Homo sapiens: one gene and its partners. The gene in region 4 interacts genetically with the main gene of each other region. Each region holds a gene or a part of one and is shown on either strand. Other genes may lie near its edges.

Evidence for each region. A genetic interaction does not mean that the proteins touch.
Region 1: changes in CDK12 (region 4) and PSMD1 together harm fitness more than expected from each alone (negative genetic interaction), as found in Homo sapiens cells (one large-scale study listed by BioGRID).
Region 2: changes in CDK12 (region 4) and PPP2R1A together harm fitness more than expected from each alone (negative genetic interaction), as found in Homo sapiens cells (one large-scale study listed by BioGRID).
Region 3: changes in CDK12 (region 4) and AOC3 together harm fitness more than expected from each alone (negative genetic interaction), as found in Homo sapiens cells (one large-scale study listed by BioGRID).

Annotation. Positions count from the first base shown.
Region 1 is NC_000002.12:231,167,849-231,171,927, reverse strand, and holds part of PSMD1 (26S proteasome non-ATPase regulatory subunit 1), read right to left. Parts: intron 1,363-4,079; coding exon 1,216-1,362; 3' UTR 1,207-1,215; intron 1-1,206. UniProt on the Homo sapiens protein: Component of the 26S proteasome, a multiprotein complex involved in the ATP-dependent degradation of ubiquitinated proteins.
Region 2 is NC_000019.10:52,196,034-52,200,112, forward strand, and holds part of PPP2R1A (serine/threonine-protein phosphatase 2A 65 kDa regulatory subunit A alpha isoform), read left to right. Parts: intron 1-4,079. UniProt on the Homo sapiens protein: The PR65 subunit of protein phosphatase 2A serves as a scaffolding molecule to coordinate the assembly of the catalytic subunit and a variable regulatory B subunit.
Region 3 is NC_000017.11:42,855,894-42,858,685, reverse strand, and holds the end of AOC3 (amine oxidase [copper-containing] 3), read right to left. Parts: intron 2,412-2,792; coding exon 2,136-2,411; 3' UTR 562-2,135; downstream 1-561. UniProt on the Homo sapiens protein: Catalyzes the oxidative deamination of primary amines to the corresponding aldehydes with the concomitant production of hydrogen peroxide and ammonia. Has a preference for the primary monoamines methylamine and benzylamine.
Region 4 is NC_000017.11:39,526,566-39,530,985, reverse strand, and holds part of CDK12 (cyclin-dependent kinase 12), read right to left. Parts: intron 383-4,420; coding exon 1-382. UniProt on the Homo sapiens protein: Cyclin-dependent kinase that phosphorylates the C-terminal domain (CTD) of the large subunit of RNA polymerase II (POLR2A), thereby acting as a key regulator of transcription elongation.

The sequences.
Region 1 (4,079 bases), on a different chromosome or scaffold from region 4:
TAGATTTGCAACCAGACCTTTAAATATAACAAATGATACTGTCCTTATTTTTTTTAAAGAGTAGAATGAATTGGCCGGGCGTGGTGGCTCACACCTGTAATCCCAGCACTTTGGGAGGCCGAGGTTCGCGGATCAGCTGAGGTCCAGAACTTGAGACCGGCCTGACCAACATGGAGAAACCCTGTCACTACTAAAAATACAAAATCAGCCGGGTGTGGTGGCGCATGCCTGTAATCCCAGCTACTCGAAAGGCTGAGGCAGGAGAATCGCTTGAACCCAGGAGGCGGAGGTTGCGGTGAGCCAAGTTTGCGCCATTGCACTCCAGCCAAGAGCAACAAGAGCGAAACTCCGTCTCAAAAAAAAAAAAAAAAAAAAAAATTGTCTGAAAACGTGTTTGTGCTTGGGTGGAATTAGGAAACCTTGATTATGTCTCACAATGTCTTCAAATATGTGATGAACACTCAAAAGAAAATGGGGAAATGAAGAACGACAATTTCATGAAATTAGATTACTCCAAACTTTCCCATCTAAAGACCCCTTTCAACACTGTTAAGACACTGATATAGTAAATGATCTTTGTCAATGGACACAGCCTTGTGGTTAGTCTAACTGACCTCAAAGTCCCTATAAGCACTATGTCTTATACACAGTAGATATTCAATAGCACCATCATAGAATGAATGAATGTTAAGGCTTCTATGCCAAAAATACTGTCGAAGGAGATGGGGAGAGAGAAAAATCAGTGAGAAGCCTATATTTGTGCTACTCAAAAGTGTCACCTATGGGCCAGTGCCAGTCCACAACTATAACTGATCCACAACAAGAAGCTTACATCAGAATGTAAATCAGCTCTATCACTAAGCAAACTGCAGTTCAGCTGATGTTTTGGGGAAGACTTTCTTGATGAAAGAAGCGTTGAGCAGACAGATTCTGGAGTAAGCTTCCTATCTCCTTATGGACCTATAAAAATAGTTTGCAGACCAGCCACTTTGAATAACGTGAGTAGAGTACGAGTCAAAGAGGAAAGAAAAAGGAATTTGTGGTTATATATGCAGAAAAAGGTTGAAACGGGGAAGTTTTAATACTGTTTAGGTAAATAAGGATTAAACACAAAAGGAAGGAAAAACGTGAGATGATGTCCTTGCAAAAAACATTTGTGAAGTATTGACAAAGAAGTTTCCCTTCATAATTTTGTTGCACACGCACCTCTGGCCCTTAATCATCAATATACTCAAATGGTTCTGGGGGTTCTGGCTCTTGTTCCTCCTCCTCGATTTTTGGGCCATGTGCTGCCACAGGTTCCACCAGCTCCTCAATGTCTTCACTGGTATCCTTCAGAATGATGATGCCTCCAATAGAGAGCTGGAAACACAGGGGCGTGCAGAAGCGTACACTCATATTTCAAGCGTGCTCCACAATCTAGAGTAAATACTTGTTAAATGGTACTTTAAAACTACTTAAATGATTTGGAAGTGAAAAACTGGAGTAGAACTTTACTGGGATAAAGATAACTGTGATCTATACGAAGTATTTGCAAACTTAACCCAGTAGCTCTAGATGGTATAACATGTGATGCTGTTCTACTTGGATGATGCATCCCAATTTAAGAATAGTTATTTCCCAGCCATGGCCTTGACTACCAGCCTCAGTCTCACTGCAGGAAGAATGTTTACTGTCCAAATATAGTATCCTAATTCCTTCCTACTCAAGATATGGTCCTGGGCCAGAAGCATCATTATCATCTGGAGCTTGTTAAAAATGCAGAAAAGCTGGCCCCACCCTAGATCTGCAGAATCTGCATTCTAACAAGATCCCAGTCAATCTGATGCACACTGAAGTTTGAGAAGCAGTCTAATGCACACTGTATGATTTGTGAGATGATAATCATTTTGAACACGAGAGTGTATAAATTAAAAGCCAATTTTTTCTCCAGCAATTTCAGAATGATGGAGAGAATAACACAGATATCCCGGGTTTTTCACTTTAATCTATAAATCCACGTGATGCAAGCCGATGAAAAAATACATGGGAAACAAAAGGGAAGTAGACTGTAGCAGCAATTCTATTAAGCCCTCTCCCAAACATATTACAGAAGGTAAATTCAAACACTAAACTATTCACCCCTCTCTAGTGTGCTAATCTTATTCTATTTGCTTGCCTGTGTCAAAGGAAATGGAAAGCTGCTCTATGTAATTAAATCAGTCAACAGTGGCAGGGCACATCTGGAAAAAGCATATTTCTACCAAAGCACATTACTGGGAAGGAAAAGAAGCACAAGTACATTAGTTAAATGATTCACGTATGTATAAGCATCTCTGCAGTTCAACCTAATCCAATTTTTACTCATCAGAACTCTGCCCTGCCATGCTATAAAACTGGTGTGCTTCGTGAACTCCGAACTATTTCCCTTCTCCTGACACACACATATCTATACATTTTTCTACAACCCCTTCCCTTAAAAAGTTTGCTTTCCTTGAAGAGGATCCATTTTATGAATGGACCCTGCCCTTACTGCCAATACTCCCAGAATGGAGCATAGGGCCACTGTCCTAATCCTCCATAGCCTAAAAGTTTACTTGAACCTAATGGACCAAATGGAGATGAATCTCCTACCAAACAGAAGAAAATATCCACGTTCACATGAGGACTTTCTATTTTTTGGAAAATGTGGATCCAGGTTATGCTATTTCATGCTTAACTGGAATGAAATAATCCAACTTAATCAAAGGAAGGCCTCATCATACAAAAACAACAGTAACACACACACAAAAAAAAATCCCAAAACTAATAATCCAAATCAACACATGGAAAGGGCTGTTTATAGCTATACATGGTCTAGGTTTGTTAATGCTTTACATGTTGGTGGGAAAGTTCACACCCTCTATGCATAAGATATACGATTTTCTGTTCTCTGGGGAGGCTAATTACAACTGTAGATATAGGCAATGAAACACTTCCTCTTGCCTCATGGTGGACAGGAAGCAGGGTAGGAATGTTACTTGTTTCCAAAACTACAGCTGCCTCTTTCAAATGCAGTGTCTGAGGAAGGGTCCCATGACCTTGCCACTGAGGGTAGGGGAGTGAGTCACTGCACATACACAGAGGCAGTGTTTTCTTTTTTAAAATGAGATATATTAACATAAAATTCATTCTCTCAAAGCGTACAATTTAGTACATTCACAAACTTGTGCAGCTATTAATACTTCTGCTATCTAATTCAAAAATATCTGCATCAACCTAAAGAAACTGTGGGCCCAGTAGCAGCCACTCTCCATTCTCCCCTTCCCCTGTCCTTGGTAGCCACCAATCTAACTCGTCTCTATAGATTTGCCTTTTCTGAATGTTTCACATAAAGGGAACCAGACCATATGCAGTCTTTTACGTCTGGCTTCTTTTACTTAAAATAATGTTTTCAAGGTTCACACACACTGTAGCATATATCAGTAAGTCTTTCCTTTTTATGGTCAAATAATATTCCATTATTATCTCACATTATTCATTCATCAGTTGATAAGACATTTAAGTTGTTTCCGTTTTATGGCTATTATGAATCATGCTGATATGAGCGTTAGTGTGTAAGCTTTTGTGTGGGCACAGTTTTCTCTTCTCTTAGGTATGGAATGGAATTGCCGGGTCATATGATAAGACTACATTTAACTTTTTGAGGAACTGCCAAATTCTTTTTTTCCACTGTGGCTGTAACTTTACTTTCCCACTATTACTCTATGAGGGTTCCAATTTCTGCATATTCTTGTCTGTGCGGTCTTTTTGATTACAGCCATCCTGGTGGGTAGAATGTGATATCTTCTTATGGTTTTGTGTTTCTTTTTAAATTAAGAGATGGGATCTTGCTATGTTGCCTAAGCTGGTGTCCAGTGGCTGTTCATAGGCACAATCATATTGCACTACAGCCTCGAGCTACTGGGCTCAAGCAATCCTCCTGCCTTGGCCTCCCATGTAGCTGGGACTGTAAGTGGGAACCACTGCACCTGTTATGGTTTTGATTTGCATTTCCTAATGAGTAATGATGTTGAGCATCTTTTCATGTGCTTATTTGCCCATCTGTACATCTTCTTTGG
Region 2 (4,079 bases), on a different chromosome or scaffold from region 4:
TATCAGTCAACATTAGCATACAAAAAGCGCCTTGGAGATTCCAAAGATTTGAGGAGTTGTATGCAAGGAAATGGGGATGAAGCCCAAATCTGTATCTCACAGTATCACAACTGTAGCAGGTGCTTGGTGGGGACACACTTGGGAGATAGTCAGTGCACAGGGAATTCTCAGGATATGACATGATCAATGGCCAGTCAAGGTTTCTGAAATGATATTAATAGATTTTCTATCAGGAATGTGACGGAGACCCCAACCTAGAGTTGTTTAAACAAGTAAGAGTTCTCTTTATTTCTCATATAGCAAGTTCAGCAGCTCAAAGCTATCACAGAATTGGGTCAGCTCAAAGATATCACAGAAATGCGGTTTTTTTGACTGGCCTGTTTTGGTTATAAGATTCCAGCAGCATCTGCTGTCCTAGTGGAACTGCACTTTTTAGTGCAGTTTAGCAGAGGCCAGCTTAGGACACAGAGGTTCTTTCCCTCCTCCCTTTTATGAAGGAGGAAAATCTCTCCTGAATCTCCTCAGCAGACTTGCTTGTATATCTCTTTGCCAAGAACTAGGTCATATGCAGAGTTAGTTGAAGTTAAGTTTGGCTGTAAGTAGTAGAAAAACTCTAAATAACAGGGGCTTAAATGAGCTTGAAGTTTCTATCTGACTGATGACCAAAATGTCTGGTGGCAATCCAGGCTGCTGTGGCACTTCATGGTGTCAGGGTCCCAGGCTCTTACCATTATGCGCTGGTTGTATCCTCCATTCTACCCTCCGTGTCCCCCAGGTTACCTCAGGTCCCCAAGTTGGCTGCCGAAGCCCCAACCATTATAGCTCCATTCCAGACAGGAAGGAGGGAAGATAAGTGTGACCCCCATCCCTATAAGTTGCACAAAACATTTCCACTTGGATTTTATTGGCCAGATGTTAGTTTTATAGTCACATTCAGATGCAAAGGCAATTCAGAAATGTCTTTTCCAGGGGTCATGTGTACAGCTGAAAACCAAGGATTATGAACAGCAGTATAGCCCCATGCAGGAGCTCCTAACTTGGGGATCATCTGCAATTCCCAGGCAGGTCCATGAATTTGGATGGCAAAAATAACATCTTTATTTTCATTAACCTTTAACTTACATTTAACTTCCCTTCTGTTATAGATTATAATATCACTATAGTATATCATAGGTAGCGTTAGCAAAACCTGTGACTTACCAGTGGAAATCAGGAGTTGTGTTCACATGTCATTTCTGCTATTATACATATCTTCTAGTGTTGTTTATGTTCACCTCTTTCAAAATTGCGTTCATTATTAGACCTGCTAAGGGGATTCATGGCACCACCCCACCCCTCTACAAGAGAAAAACCAAAAAAAGCCGGGTGCAGTGGCTCATGCCTATAATCCTAGCATTTTGGGAGGTCGAGGTGGGAGGATTGCTTGAGCTCAGGAGTTTGAGGGCAGCTTGGGCAACATAGTGAGGCCTCATCCCTACAAAAAGTTAAAAAACTAGCTGGGCTTGGTGACACCTGCCTGTAGACCCGTCTACTTGGGTAGCTGAGGCGGGAGAATCACTTGAGCCCGGGAGGTCAAGGCTACAGTGAGCTACGATTGTGCCACTGCACTCCAGCCTGGGTAACAGAGTGAGACCCTGCCTCAAAACAACAACAAGCACAACAAAAAAGAAAAAACAGAGCAAATATGAATCCATAGTACTGGTTAAGAACCTGGTGGCTGGGATTCAAATCCTGGCTTTACTACCAGTAAGCTGTATGCAGTTAAGCTCCCTGTGCCTTTGTGTTCTCTGCCTCAAGACGGGGGATTCTGTATTTCCCTCATGGGATTGTGAGGGTCAAATGAATTAAAACATTAAAGCCTGGGGCATAGTAGAGACTAAGGAAATATTTACTGTTATTATTCTGTCATGGTGAAAAAAGGGAAAAGAAACATCAGTGGACCAGCTGCCACGATGTCCTTCTTAATAATCTGAACAAAATCAGGATGCTGTCAGTGAGGCGTGGTTGCCACGGCTGCCATTATTAATCTTCCCCTGGTGCTAGGGTGTCCCTGTAGAATGTCATTTTGTACTCAAGACAACCCTCTGAGGGTAGGTATTCTCATCATCCCCACTTCACAGATGAGAAAATTGAGGCTCAGAAAGGTACAAGGATTGCCCAAGATTCCACAGCTAATATGTAAGCAGTTTAGCCTTGAACCTGGACAGTGCAGCTCTGTAGTACCACCCTAGGCCATCTTTCTCAAGCATTGATGATGCTGTCTGCCTGAAGAAACACTTTTAATGAAACCAAAAGCAGAATCCCAAAGAACAGCAGTGGAAGGAAGGGAGCTCTCTGGATGGGAAAGCAGCCTGATTGTCATGGGCCCACCTCTTGGGCATCCCCAGCTTCAAGTTGGGGTTCCCACGACCCCCTCTTTGGGTTTGATTAATTTGCTGGAGCGGCTCACAGAACTCCAGGAAACACTTAGGTTTACCGGTTTATTATAAAGGATATTCCAAAGGATACAGATGAAGAGGTGCATAGGGTGAGCTATGGAGGAAGGGGCGGGGAGCTTTCGTGCCATCCCTGGGGATGCCACCCTCCAAGAATGTGCATGTTCTGCTATCAGGAAGCTCTCTGAATCCTTTCCTCTTTGGTTTTTATGGAAGCTTCATGATACAAACATTTTTGCCTAAATGACAGTATGATATTGAAATTGAGTCAGGCTGCCTGGCTTCATTGCTTTCCAGTAAGTGACAGCCTCACCTCTGTGCATCAGTGTCCTCACTCGCCTCTGTGCATCAGTGAAGTGGGGACGCTGCTAACAATACATACCTCAGAGCAGTTATGAGGATTCAGTGTGTTAATCATCCATGTCAATCACTTGGATTGCTGCCAAGCACGTAGCAAACAATAAATGTTTGTTGCTATTGTTCTGGCATTTATGATTATGATTATTAATTGTAATTATTCCCTGTACCATCTCATTGTCCTCAGGGCTGTTGCTCACCTAGTATGGCCCTAGCCCATGTGTATATTTCCCCATAGCTCAGGCTGAGAGAAGAACACACAGATCAACTTGGAGAAAACAAAGAGGAAAGAAATAGGCAACTAGGTCAATACTCCCCACAGTATTTTATGTTATTTTATTTTATTTATTTATTTATTTGAGACAGAGTCTCACTCTGTCACCCAGGCTGGAGTGCAGTGGCACCATCTCGGCTCACTGCAAGCTCCACCTCCCAGGTTCACGCCATTCTCCTGCCTCAGCCTCCCGAGTAGCTGGGACTATAGGCGCCCGCCACCACGCCCGGCTAATTTCTTTTTGTATTTATGGTAGAGACGGGGTTTCACCGTGTTAGCCAGGATGGTCTCGATCTCCTAACCTCATGATCCGCCTGCCTCGGCCTCCCAAGGTGCTGGGATTACAGGCATGAGCCACTGCGCCTGGCCTCCCCACAGTATTTTATTATGAAAGTTTTCAGACATGCATAACTTTGGAAGACTAACACAAGGGTCAGCAGACTACAGTCCATGGGTCCAATTCAGCCCACTGTCTGCTTTTGCAAGTAAAGTTATTGGAACACAGCTATGCCTGTTTGCTTCTCTAGTTCTGGTTCTATGGTTGTTTTCAGTGCCACGCAAGCAGAGTTCAGTAGTTAGGTTTGCAAAGCTGAAAATAATTACTGTCTGGCAATGTATAGAATAAGTTTTGCTGACTTCTAGCATAGTGCAGTGAGCACCTCTATACTTACACCCCAGGTCAGTGATTGTTAGTGTTTGCTATATTAGTTTTTTATCTTTCTATAGGTCTGTCTCTATATACGTTTTATTTTTTAGCTGAAAATCAGTTGCAGGTTTTGTAGTACTTTATCCTGAGGTCCGTTTAATGCCAGAATGGTGAGTTTTTGGACTACCTGTATGAAAGATTTACTGTGTGCATTTTTCTGAGGAGAGACCATCACAACACTTCATCAGATGCTCATCGTCTGTGATCGCAGAGATATTCTTCAACTCCTGGACCGGAGAACCCAACTCACGCAAGATCTTAGTCACTTGTAGACCTCGTCTCAGTTATGTAGGGCCTCAGAACAGAA
Region 3 (2,792 bases), 3.3 Mb from region 4:
TGAAGGCCCCCTGCTCCTTACTGAAGGCTTTCTTCCTGTTCTTTAGAGCCTAATTTCTCTCCAGCTCATTGATTCCTCCCCATCCATTGTTCCACTGACCTACGGCAGAACTTGGGCTTGGGGCAGAACAGAAGGTAGCAGAAGCTTCCATGATGCTGGAGCTCCCAGAACATATTCTGGTCTTTTTCTGGTCAGAAGCTGAGTGGCATCCAGAATGTTTCCTGCACTTTACCTCCTGCCCTGGCCTGGGCTTCTGGCAAGCAGAAGTCACCCCTCCTCACTGCTTCTCATTGCCCCTCATTGAGAGAGAGAGAAGACAGGAGAGAGGGAAAGGGTGGGGTGTGTGTGTGTCAGGGAATTAACCGAGGTTTAACATTTCCTCAAAGATGTACAAGCATGAGAAGGCAAAAGGAGTTACTAGAGGCCACACCTGCTTCTCTGGATCTCAAGAACTGGAGAAAATTTCATCCCTGGTCCCATTCCTTAACCCACTTTACCCTACCCCCAACCTGTTCCCCACCAAAAAAAAAAGTGTCAGTAAAAAAAAAAAGTCAATTCCTGTTTGGGCCCATTTATTGTTTATTTTGAATAGGTAATACAGTCACATGGTTCAAAATTCAAAATGTACAAAAGGGTGTAAGTGTTAAGACCCTTCCCTCTCCTGTCCTCAACCTACTGGTTCCCCTCCCAAAAGTAATCAGTGTTACCCATTTATTCTGAATAGGCATACATAAGCAATTATGTGTTTATATTCTACTCCTTTCTGAAACACAAATGGGAAGTGCGCTATACACATTTCTGTGGCTTGCCTTTTTCACCTGAAGATTATTACATATTAGTATATAAAGACATACAATTATTTTTTAGCTGCATACTATTGTATTGTAAGGCTGTATCAGAATTGATTTAACCAGTCCTTTAGAGAAAAAAGTTTCTGTTGTTTCTCATCTCTTGCTATTTCTTTGTCCCCATCCCCAATCCAGACCTCAGGAGGGACAGCAGTGATGGGAATGGAGCCCAAGCCTGGACCAGGCCAGGCCCTGCCCCACCCAGGCCAGGCCCCTCCCCACTAGGCCAGACCCCCACCTCACCCAGGGCCCAGCTCATTCGCATGCCTGAATGTGATTGGACAGCCCCTCCTGGCTGGGTGGCTGGAGTTGTAGGGGCTTTGGCTTCTCATCTTTGATGCCCACCCTTTGTTTCCACTCCAGCCTCCCAAACAGGCTGTTGCAGAATACAGAGCCCTGGTACAAAATGGCCATTCTTCATTATCATTGCACCCCCAAATCACTTGAAATGCTAACTTGAGCTGCTGCTGTCACGATGACCATCCTCCTCTATAGAGAGCATGAGGCAGGCAGACACAAATGCACAGAAGCAGCTGTCCTGAAACACACCCAGCCCCAGGACAGGGGTAGGAGCAACTCCTACTCCCAATAAGCAACAGACACAAGGGAACGACACACAGGGATTGGCCACTCTGATTAGGGGTCCCGTGACCTTGAGACTTCCATAGGGCTGGAGAGGAGACGGAACTTGACTGAAAACTGAGGGCTGGGGGAGTACCAGGGGCTGGGACATAGGGATATCCCCTCAGGATTCGGGAGAAATTGCAGGATAGAAGAGAAGGCAGGAACAGGAGGAGGAGGAGGAAGTAGGTGAGAGAGAGGAAGACGAGAAGGAAAGGACCTGGATGAGAGGGAATGTGAGCAGAAGCATCCTTTCCAGCTCAGCTATGGACTTGCAGGACTGGCAACCCTACTCTGGGGTCTCCAGGGAATAGCCCCCTTTTAGAGTCCTTGGAGGTGGCCTAAAAAGATTCGGGAAAGCCAGACAGCAACAAAGGGAACCATCTAGGGAAGCCCTCGGCCACGGCTCCAGGCTGGGCCATGCCTGGCCTCTGTGGATGAGAACTCAGTACAGCTGGCATCAACAAGGTTCAGTGTCCCCTGTGTCAGGCATCACAGGGTCAGGAGGCTCCTGGCTCAGAGGCGGATGCGAGGGAGGGTAGTGGAAGAAAGAGAGTCCTGGCACAGGAAAGAGGGAACCAGGCTGCCGGCCCAGTGCCCAGCTGCTCCCCATCCCTCACACCCTGGCCCTGGAGCCCTTGGCCACATGCCCCATCCCAGGACCGCCTAGTTGTGAGAGAAGCCCCCGTGGGAGAAGGCAGGGAGGTCGGGGGCACAGGCAGCAGCCTGGGGCAGGCAAGCTAGGGGGTTGACCTCGCAGGCCCCAGCATCCTGGTCCCCTCGGAAGTAGATGGAGTCGGCAGAGTAGAAGGAGGGGTCTTCGTCAAAGAAGTTATAGGGTCGGAGGAAGAAGCCCACGCCGTTCCCCACAGTCACTGTGTTAGGAATGTCCTCTGCATGTGGGATATGCAGAAAACCAGCTGTCACCCAGGCCACCAAATCCTAGCAGGGGAGAAGAAAGAGGATCACGAGGTCTGGCTTTGCTGAGGACATGCCCTGGTAGGGATTCAGCTCACCAGCCCAAGGATCATGAGTCTTTAAACATTTTTTCCTGCTGGGTAGGAGTCAAAGCATAAGTAGTCCATTTCATATTAGGAACACCTGCTTCCCTGTCCCTGGCTTGCAGCCTCCATCTCTGACATTTCCCATCATATCGCCCATTGCCTATCTACCCCCAGAGGGTGACACCCACAGGCTACTTCAGCTCCTCTTCCCCTAACTCTCCAAGAGTTCCCCACAACTGAGGAAAGAAGGGTGGAGGAAAAAGAACCAGCGCTTGGGAAGCAGAACCAGGCCAACATTGTGAAATTCATCAAGTCAGGA
Region 4 (4,420 bases):
CTCAGAGAGCCTGAGAAGGTCCTGTTCTTCACCAGGGTCTGGACCAAGGATTCTGTCAAGGCTGGACCAGAGTTTCGTTCATCAGTGTCAATGGCACTGAACCCTGTTTCAGGCCCATCAGTGTTTCCATAAGTCCTGTTTGGACGGGGTCGGGTGGAGTACTCCATTGGTCTCAAGGCCTGGTGCTCATGTGGCAGGTGGCCAGGAGGCTCTGCTTCAGGCTGGGATAAAAGTTGCAGCAAGGCGGCTGTCACGGCTGGGTTCAACTCCTGGGGGGCGCTGGAAAGATCGCCTTCAACCAGAGGGGGTGGAGGTGGCGGCGGTGGAGGTCCGGGGGGCTCAGGGGGCCTCTTCTCTGGTGGAAGAATGTGAGGAGGACATGCTGTGGAAGGGTTACTTCTTTTAAACACCATCTTAAAAAGCACATGTGATTATAAACACAAACACACACACTGTGCAACATAAACAAATATCAATATAAGTAACCAGATATATAAAGAATAAAATCTTGGGATCAGAAAATTGCAATTATAAATAAATCAAGTGATTAAAAGTAAAACAGTTGCATCCTGGATCTAACAGCTAGTGTAAAAATATCATATGTTTCAAATGATTATCCTGATTTTGGTCTAAGATTTCCTCCATTTCCTTCCTTTAAAGAACTGTTCTAACATGCAGGCTGTTGGCAGACTCCCTGCCCCTTTTTGCTGTTAGATGGAAACATTAAAACAAAGCAGAAGGAAGGAAGATGAGAGGGAACAATATACATGCTGTGGTCACATTTCTAGGACATAATCTTGCTCTACAACAGAGACCTTGCATGGACTTGGCTAACACATTTTACAGAATGTTTGATGACATAGGTTAACCTGAAATAAAACTTAAAGAATATATAGGAGAGATAAAATAAAGTAAAAAGTTTTCATTACTGTCATGTATAAAAATACACTTGCTTCTCCAAACTTTAGTCACGTCTCCCCAAAATCATAGTCTGAAAGGATTGTAACTACCATATTATCATTCAGCTTCCTATGTTACAGTAATTTTAAAGACTAATTTCTATCATAATTTTCTATTTTGTTTTCCTAACTACTGCATTTTTTTCCATGCTATGAAAAAAAAATCACTATAGCAGTGTCATGCAGAATGAACTGTTGATAAACATCTGTTTATCTTGGAGACGGTGACAAGAACTAAATATTTAGAAATATATTAAATTCATACTATACTCTGTCTTTACAAAGATCTTTTGTCTTTCTTGAACTACTTCCACCAGACTTTCTTTTTTCCACTGCTGCCTAAATGTGCTTAAGCATGATAAACATTGTCTGATAATGAACTCCTGCCAAGGCAGGAGAGGAGAGATGTAAAATGGTATGAGTTTGAGGACAAAGAAAACCACTGAGACAGAAGTATGGTAGAACAATGCCTTTAGAAAATTGAGAGTCATCCTGCTGAAGAAAAGATTTAATGTTTTGGGATATCTTCCAAATGACCGATTTTTCTTTTCCCTATGGAAGCATATTTTAAAATATATATATAGTCATTCTTCAATTATCTAAGCTGTGATGTAAAGTCATTACTCAAAACAAGCCAAAAACAGTTTTTAGTTATAATTAGATATTTTTGTAGCATATTTACCTTAATTATATTTTGCAAAGACAATCAGTAATTAAGTTTGTATTCCCTTAGCATGCAGATGAAAGCACTCTGAAAACACTACAAAATTGTAAGGTTGTACAGTACAAAAGATGGTCAGGTGTTACATGTAACATCCAAGCAGGGTGACCAACAGTCCCAGTTTGTCTGGGACTGAGGGGGTTTTCCAGGTTGTCAATGTTCAGCTTTAAAACCGGGACAGTTCAGGAATGAATTGGTGACCCTATGTATAGTACCCACCCAAGTTATTTGTTGACTGATTGGCTGGTTGACAGGGTGGCAGGGGAAAATGAATTTAAGGACAAAAAATTAGCCATGGAAAATTTTGAACATGGAGAGTAGACATGCTGAAAAAGGAGGGCAAACTGGACTACAAGTAATGATAGATTTCAGAGCCTTTTGCTTTCAACACTCTCTATATAAGGACATCACTGTACCAGTTATTTAAAAAGTATTTCTGGACTACACATAAAATGGAACACGAGGATTTTTAATACCGAGGTCAAATAACTTAAAAATGTGTAACTGTAAAAGTGAGATAATCTAAACTTACATTCTTCCAGCTATGCCATTTTTTTGTATTCAAACTGTGCCTTTTATGTAAATAGCCTAATTATGTTTCAACAGAACTAACACTTGAGGTCAAATTCTTTCATATGTGTAAAATAAAAATTCTATTCCAAAGTAGCAAAGGCTGGGCATGGTGGCTCATGCCTGTAATCCCAGTACTTTGGGAGAACAAGGAAGGCAGATCACTTGAGGTCAGGAGTTAGAGACCAGCCTGGCCAACAAGGTGAAACCCCGTCTCTACTAAAAATACAAAAAAATTAGCCGGGCCTGGTGTCACACACCTGTAATCCCAGCTACTAGGAGGCTGAGGCAGGAGAATCGCTTGAACCTGGGAGGTAGGGTTTGCAATGAGCTGAGATCACGCCACTGCACTCCAGCCTGGGTGACAGAGCGAGACTCCATCTCAAAAACAAACAAACAAAAAAACTTATTAAAGTAAGCCTAATACTTCTTAAAGGAATTAAAAATATGAATTATAAATCATATTGTTATGATCTAAAGTATCAATGTTGTCAATCCTTAAAAGTATGGACTTTTGGCTGGGTGTGGTGGTTCACACCTGTAATCCCAGCACTTTGGGAGGCTAAGGCGGGTGGATCACCAGAGGTCGGCAGTTCAAGACCAGCCTGGCCAACACAGTGAAACCCCATCTCTACTAAAAATACAAAAAAAAATTAGCCAGGTGTGGTGGCAGGTGCCTGTAATCCCAGCTACTTGGGAGGCTGAGGCAGGAGAATTGCTTGAACCCAGGAGGCAGAGGCTGCAGTGCACCAAGATCGCGCCATTGCATTCCAGCCTGGGTGACAGAGAGAGACTCTGTCTCAAAACAAACAAAAAAAAAGTACGGACTTTCAGGATTGACAACAATAAGGATGTATTATTGAAATGTAAAAATAAATTTAAAACTTCAGGCCGGGGGTAGTGGCTCAAGCCTGTAATCCCAGCACTATGGGAGGCTGAGGCGGGCAGATCACCTGAGGCTGGGAGTTCGAGACCAGCCTGGCTAACATGGTGAAACCTCGTTTCCACTAAAAATACAAAATTAGCTGGACATGGAGGTGCATGCCTATAATCCCAGCTACTCAGGAGGCTGAGGCAGGAGAATCGCTTGAACCCAGGAGACGGAAGTTGCAGTGAGCCAAGATCATGCCATTGCACTCCAGCCTGGGCAATGGAGTAAGACTCCGCCTCCAAAAACAAACAAATAAACAAACAAAACCCTTCATTTTACTCATTTGATTTCAACTTATCACCCTTCCCAGTAAGTACAGAATAGTAAAACAGCAGCCCAATTAATAGGCTGTCACCTTCTCTGGTTTATACAGTCTGCCCTCTGGTGGAAGTGCTAATTAACAGTGAAATGGCCAAATAGAGATAGCAGGGGAGAAACAAGAACAAGTGAGCCACTGTAGAGGCATCAGCTGAATAATCCAGGGGTGACTGCAATAATTAGTTACGGCATCTCTACACTTTCCTCTGAAAAGTAAATCCAACAACTTCTGGCCATAGGCCAGGCCTTAAAACATATACTTTCTGCACCACCTCATATGAAATGTGAATGTAGGACCCTAAAGTTGAAGATTAGTATATCTCTTCAGCCCTCGAGCCTCTTCTTATTCCCCAATTCATGGGGTCTTCATGGACAGTGAGAATTTCCGAGGAGTTAAAAACATTTTTACATAAGTAAAGATTTTGCAAATACAGTGTGAATCAGAATTAAAGAACTTAAACTGCTTTTCCCTCTAATAAATTGCACGCTATGGTCATGTGAGATTAACGTATAACTTATCCCCATTTTCCTTTTTTTTCTTTATAATACACGCACTTCCTGATCTGGGGTCCATTCAATTGCTTCTATCAGAAACAGATTTAAAGGAATTGTTCTTATACACTATTATTTTTGGGAAAAGAAATGTATAGTGTTAATTATCTACTTAGAAATATTCCCAAATTATTCTTCAGGAAATTAACAATGATATTTTATTAGGGTTTTCTTGATTGTATCTTCCAGGAAAGACTGGCATTCAGCATCCACTCCACTAGAGGTAAAGAAGTATAGTCTGATAATGGTTTGTTTGGAAGTCAGATTTCCAAGTGCTAGGACTAGTTGGCCACCACACACAGTTCAAGATGTGTGGTTCAAGATGCATCACTAGCTATGGTTGTGGTTTCCTTGGTTAGAACACAGGGG